Regions from separate parts of the Homo sapiens genome. Here region 2 is linked to region 1. Evidence: fine-mapped expression QTL. A gene starts in region 1. The other region holds a variant in brackets. All regions are shown on one strand. Distances are between the middles of the regions. Region 1 holds the start of ZMAT2 (zinc finger matrin-type 2). Region 2 overlaps IK (IK cytokine).

The links.
Region 2: its variant is fine-mapped to the expression of ZMAT2 in whole blood (INTERVAL, PIP 0.99).

Annotation. Positions count from the first base shown.
Region 1 is chr5:140,699,036-140,701,952 of GRCh38, forward strand. ZMAT2 (zinc finger matrin-type 2) reads left to right here and starts at 1,412. Exons shown (of 6, transcript NM_144723.3): 1 at 1,412-1,443; 2 at 1,784-1,877. The coding sequence starts at 1,426. It overlaps HARS2 (histidyl-tRNA synthetase 2, mitochondrial), which reads left to right. Exons shown (of 13, transcript NM_012208.4): 13 at 1-270. RefSeq lists an enhancer at 1,671-1,740.
Region 2 is chr5:140,656,086-140,658,969 of GRCh38, forward strand. It overlaps IK (IK cytokine), which reads left to right. Exons shown (of 20, transcript NM_006083.4): 10 at 1,469-1,577; 11 at 2,652-2,691; 12 at 2,854-2,884. Among named protein-coding and RNA genes, the nearest start is that of WDR55, 7.4 kb to the right of the region's middle. The variant G/T (reference allele first, on the strand shown) is at 1,790.

The DNA.
Region 1 (2,917 bases):
TGAGGACAGATGCTATCCTAAGGGCATGGCAGTACCCATGTTGATTTGACATCTCTCTAGCCCATCCATTGCTTACAGTAGAAGAGTGGGGCTGTATGCTTGATAATCTTGAACATTGAACTTAATAGATGACTTGACAAGGTAGAGATCTGATATTTTGAGATTTTGGAGACCATTTCCTGTGCCAGAATCACTGCTCTATTCCATACCGTGCCATGGAGGCTGTTTTAGAAGTGGTTGGATAACATGTTAAATAAAATATTAAGTGTAGTAGTTTGGGTAATTTGTTATTGTTATCAAGGGCTTTGTTTGCATAGACCATAGAAAATGCTTGAGTGTACATTGGAGAATTCTGTGAGGTAGAAGTAACCTCCCTGGGATGATGCTTCTGTATTCAGTGATGAGCAGCCACAGTTTCTCCCTCTTTCCCTGTCTCCTCAAGAGGTAGTTTTTTTGTTTGTTTGTTTTTAGACGGAGTCTTGCTCTGTCACCCAGGCTAGAGTGCAGTGGCGTGATCTCGGCTCACTGCAACCTCCGCCTCTCAGGTTCAAGAGATTCTCCTGCTTCAGCCTCCCGAGTAGCCAGCTAATTTTTGTATTTTTAGTAGAGACAGGGTTTCACCATCTTGGCCAGGCTGGTCTCAAACTCCTGACCTCATAATCCACCCACCTCAGCCTCCCAAAGTGCTGGGATTACAGGCATGAGCCACTGTGCCCGGCCAAGAGGTAGTTTTGTTGCTAAAAATCAACATATAGTGAGCCGGTATGCCACAGTGCTTCACTCTAGAGTGTTGTTGATGACTGGCCTTTCCAAATCCAATTATGCTGATTAAATTATGTTCTACTATAAAGTTCCCCAGATGATGGAAAAATAAGTGAACCAAAGGGTGGTAGCATTGCTTCAAGGAAAAGAGCCCAAGTGCAAAACATGCTTTTTATATGTGCGTCGGGAAGGGTGCCTCTGTTGCAAACGTTTCAGTGTAGTTTAGGGTCATATCCCTAGTGCATGCAGGTGAATGAGAGGCATCTAGACCCCCTAATGGCGCTTCGGCCTTAAAAAAGGTTTAGAAATTCTTGGCAGTGGACGCAAAGTTGCTAGACTAGATCAGAGACCACTGTTTTGCGAACCTCAGTTTCCTTGTTTGTAAAATAGTTGAACTAAATCTTGACCCTTTAATGCTTGTTTTGAAATCCAAGGCAAAAAACAATTGCAAGCGCCCTTACTTCCGTGTTGCTTCATACTCCTCTTGCGCCTGCGCTGTCTCCTTGGAGCAGAGGCGGGGCCAACAAGCCTGTTTTAGAAACCCTCCAGTCCTTAGCTCGTTTAGAACACAAGACTCCAAGCTTATTGGAGGGCTATCTTGCCTTACGGCTCCAAGCCGCTTTTTACGGCGTTTTTCAGCTCGCCATTCACTTCGCTGTGAAGATGGCGTCGGGCAGCGGGGTAGGTGTTGTGTCTGAGGAGGAGGTTTTGCGGGGTGGGGAATGGTTTTTCAGACCTGAATAGAGACAAACTCCTGCACCCGACTGGCTTCCCGATATCTCCTCGAGATCCCAGGGTTCAGGTTCAAGAACTCCCCAGTAATAGGCCTTGGCAGAGGGTCAGTAGAATCGCGGAGGTTTCTCGGGTTGGGGTCTTGAGGCTACCTCAGTCTTCTCGTACAGTCCAAAGAGGCTTTGCTTTCAAAACGTCCTGTAGACACCTGGACCGCGAGGGCGCGGTTCCCTGCTTCTCTAGGGGCCCAGACACGGCGACGGATCTTGACGCTTTTTCCTCCCCACAGACAAAAAACTTGGACTTTCGCCGAAAGTGGGACAAAGATGAATATGAGAAACTCGCCGAGAAGAGGCTCACGGAAGAGAGAGAAAAGAAAGATGGTGGGTGCTAACTACATCAAGGGCTAAGGGTATCACAGAGGCGATGCGATGATGGAGAGCGGGTGGGAGTTGAAGTGCGCTGCCTTCCCACGCGGTGTAAGCTCTGGCAGAGTGCTGCTTCCCTGGGCCTAGGTTTCTGCATTTACAAAATGAGAGCGAGGAGGTGGGATGAAGTAAGTAGTTTTGAGATGCTCTTCAGCTCTATTTCACTCTGCTTCCTTGCCCACCCTTTGCTTGGCTCGTTTAATGCTTTCCTGAAGTACAGAGAAGATAACGGCATCCTTAGTAGTGACAGAGAAGTTAAGTAGAGTATTTTGCTGCTGTGCATTACCGCTATCAGTGACCCCCCTCTTTCCCTTGAAATTTCTTAAGGGAGAGAACATTCCTGGCCCAATCAAGACCCTCCCATATAGTCTGAGAAAAGCCGGGGAACTTTGCAGGATCTGTGATTGTTTCAGCTAGAGCTTAGTAGTGCTGTTTCTCTGTGCCTTGTACATCAGGGAGTTGGTGCTTCTCTCCTGTTTAAGAGATTGCATAAAGAAATGTTTTATTTTGTCATCTGTTTCAAACGTGTACATTCTTCTTTCCCTTTACCTCCAGGCCACCTTGCACTCACTAACTCTTTCATTTTTTATGTAACATGTAAAATAAATAGTGCTTGACATGTAACAGGCATTTCCTAGATGTTGGTCCCCTTTTATAAATTTGCCCAGCTCTCAGAAGGTTCCTTTCCGTTATGCCTAGGGTATCTGCCTGAAAGCATTCTTGAATGTCCTTGCTCCCGTTTTGAAAAAGTTGCTTCTAGTAATTCTTCAGAAATTCTCCCCCACAATTCAGTTAATCAATGAATATAAAACATACTGTTTTTAGATTTGCTGGCTTTAAAGTGGAGAAAAGCTGTAGAGTTGAGGATTGCTTATGATTTCTTCCTGTGTTGAGATTCTCCCCAGCTGCTACTTTAAGTGTCTGTTGTGTCCTTTCAGGAATGATTTTGAAATGAGTAAGACCTGAATTTTGGATTTCATGCATTTTTTTTCCTT
Region 2 (2,884 bases), 43 kb before region 1:
CAAGTGCTGTTCACTTTTACCTCCTAAATCTCAACTGAATCCATTCACTTTTCCACTTTTTCACCAATAACATTCCAGTCTAAGCTATAATCATTTGCTGGAACTATTAACTTACTATTTTTTTAGAGACCAAGTCTCACTCTGTCACCCAGGATGGAGTGCAGTGGTGCTATCTTGGCTCACTGCAAACTCCGCCTCCCAGGTTCAAACGATTCTCCTGCCGCAGCCTTCCAAGTAGCTGGGACTACAGGCATTCATCACCACACCTGGTTAATTTTTTTATTTTTAGTAGAGATTGGGTTTTACCACGTTGGCTAGGCTATTCCTGACCTCAAGTGATCCATCCGCCTTGGCCTCCCAAAGTACTGGGATTACAGGCATGAGCCACTGCGCCAGTCCTCTGGAGCTATTAAAAAGGCTTCTAATTGGTTTCCGCACTTCCACTCTGGTTTCCGCACTTCCACTCTGATTTGTTATTATATCTTGTTATTGAGGTGTTATTCACATGCCATATAATTCATCCTTTAAAGAGAATTTTTTTAAAAATTTTTGTGGATATATAGTAGGTATATATATTTATGAGGTACATGAGATGTTTTGATACAGGCATATAATGCATAATAATCACATCATGGAAAATGGGGTATCCATCCCGTTAAACATTTATCTTTTGTGTTACAAACAATCCATTTATACTCTTTTAGTTGTTTTAGAATGTATAAATTATTACTGCCTATAGTCACCCTGTTGTGCTATCATGTAGTAGGCCTTATTCATTCTTTCTATTTTTTTGGTACCTATTAACCACCCCTACCTCCCCTACCCTTCTAAAATATACAGTTTGGCTGGGTGCAGTGGCTCACACCTGTAATCCCAGCACTTTGGGAGGCTGAGGTGTGAGGATCACTTGAGGTTAGGAGTTCAATACCAGGTGGGCCAACATTGTAAAACCTGATCTCTACTAAAAATTAGCCAGGCGTGGCGGCATGTGCCCGTAATCCCAGTTACTCGGAAGGCTGAGGCATGAGAATTGCTTGAACCCAGAAGGTGGAGGTTGCAGTGAGCCAAGATCGTGCCACTGCATTCTAGCCTGGGCGACAGAATGAGACTCTGTCTCCAAATAAATAAATAAAATGTAAATTTTTGTCTCACTACAGTTTAGAAGCTTTTAGTAGTATCTCATTCTTAGGATAAAGAGCAAAATCTTTACCATGACTTTGAGCCTCTGCAACATCTGGCCTTTCTAGAATGTTCTAGACTCCTGACTTTCTTGAATGGTCTTGATTCATTTTGATGCAGGGCTTTTGTGCAGGCTGTTTTATCTCTGGAATATCCTTTCACAGCACTTCGTTTCCCTCCCTTCACCTACTGTATTGTAATTCAGTCTTTAGTTTGTTAAGTGAATGAATGAATAAATGAAGAGATTTCTGCTGAGTGGTTTAACATTCTTGTTTCTTGGTATTTTCAGGCCCAGACCACACTGACCACAAATGACATTGTCATTAGCAAGCTGACCCAGATCCTTTCATACCTGAGGCAGGGAACCCGTAACAAGAAGCTTAAGAAGAAGGATAAAGGTACCTGGAGGGTTAGAGAGAGAAGCCTTACCCACAGAGGACGTTTGGGGATAAAACCAAGGTCTCCTGGAGCTTTCTGTCTCCAGAATATTGAGAGGCTCCTGGGAAGCAGAGAAAAATGGGAGTACTGGAGCATTGGCAAGGAGACAGTTACAGCCAGATTCTGTCTCCTTAACCTACCTAAGAAGCAGTGGTCAGGTCTGAAGCATGAG[G/T]GATGGAGAGTGGGTAGCTTATGTCCTATTTATTTATTTTTTTTAAAAGAGATTTTTTGGTGAAAACCAGAAAACCTAGACAGATTCTAAAAAGGCTCTAATACTTGACCGACATTTTATTTTATTTTATTTATTTATTTTTTGAGACGGAGTCTCGCTCTGTCACCCAGGCTGGAGTACAGTGGTGCGATGTCTGCTCACTGCAACCTCTGCCTCCCGGGGTCAAGCGATTCTTCTGCCTCAGCCTCCCAAGTAGGCACTATAGGCACTATAGGCACGCATCACCACGCCTGGCTAATTTTTGTATTTTCAGTAGAGATGGGGTTTCACTGTATTGGCCTGGCTGGCCTCGAACTCCTGACCTTATGATGTGCCCACCTCGGCCTCCCAAAGTGCTGGGATTACAGGCATGAGCCACTCTTCCTGGCCTTATTTTATTATTTTTATTTATTTATTTATTTTGAGACGAGTCTCGTTTTGTCGCCCAGGCTGGAGTGCAGTGATGCCATCTCGGCTCACTGCAACCTCTGCCTCCTGGGTTTAAGCAATTCTCTTGCCTCAGCCTCCTGAGTAGCTGGGATTACAGGCACCTGCCATCACACCCGGCTAATTTTTTTGTACTTTTAGTAGAGATGGGGTTTCACCATGTTAGCCAGGCTGGTCTCAAACTCCTGACCTCAAGTGATCCGCCCGCCTTGGCCTCCCGAAGTGCTGGGATTACAGGCGTGAGCCACCGCACCCAGCCTTGACCCACGTTTTAAACAGAAGATGTTTAAAAGGGCATTAAGAGCTGGAGAGGATGGTGAAGTTCAGTGGAAATTAACTGAGGAGTATGTTCCTGACTCCTCTCTTTAAATTTCAGGGAAGCTGGAAGAGAAGAAACCTCCTGAGGCTGACATGAAGTATGTATCCTAGCCCCTGGCATCTGATCAGAGGGAGGGGGTCTGTACATTTCTTGTGTCTGGCATTTTGGGGAGGTGCTGACATGAGAATCTGGAGAAATGGTCAGGGGGAGTGAAGGTGTATGTGTGAATTTGGCCAGCTAGTGATCTCCATTTTCCCAGTATTTTTGAAGACATTGGGGATTACGTACCC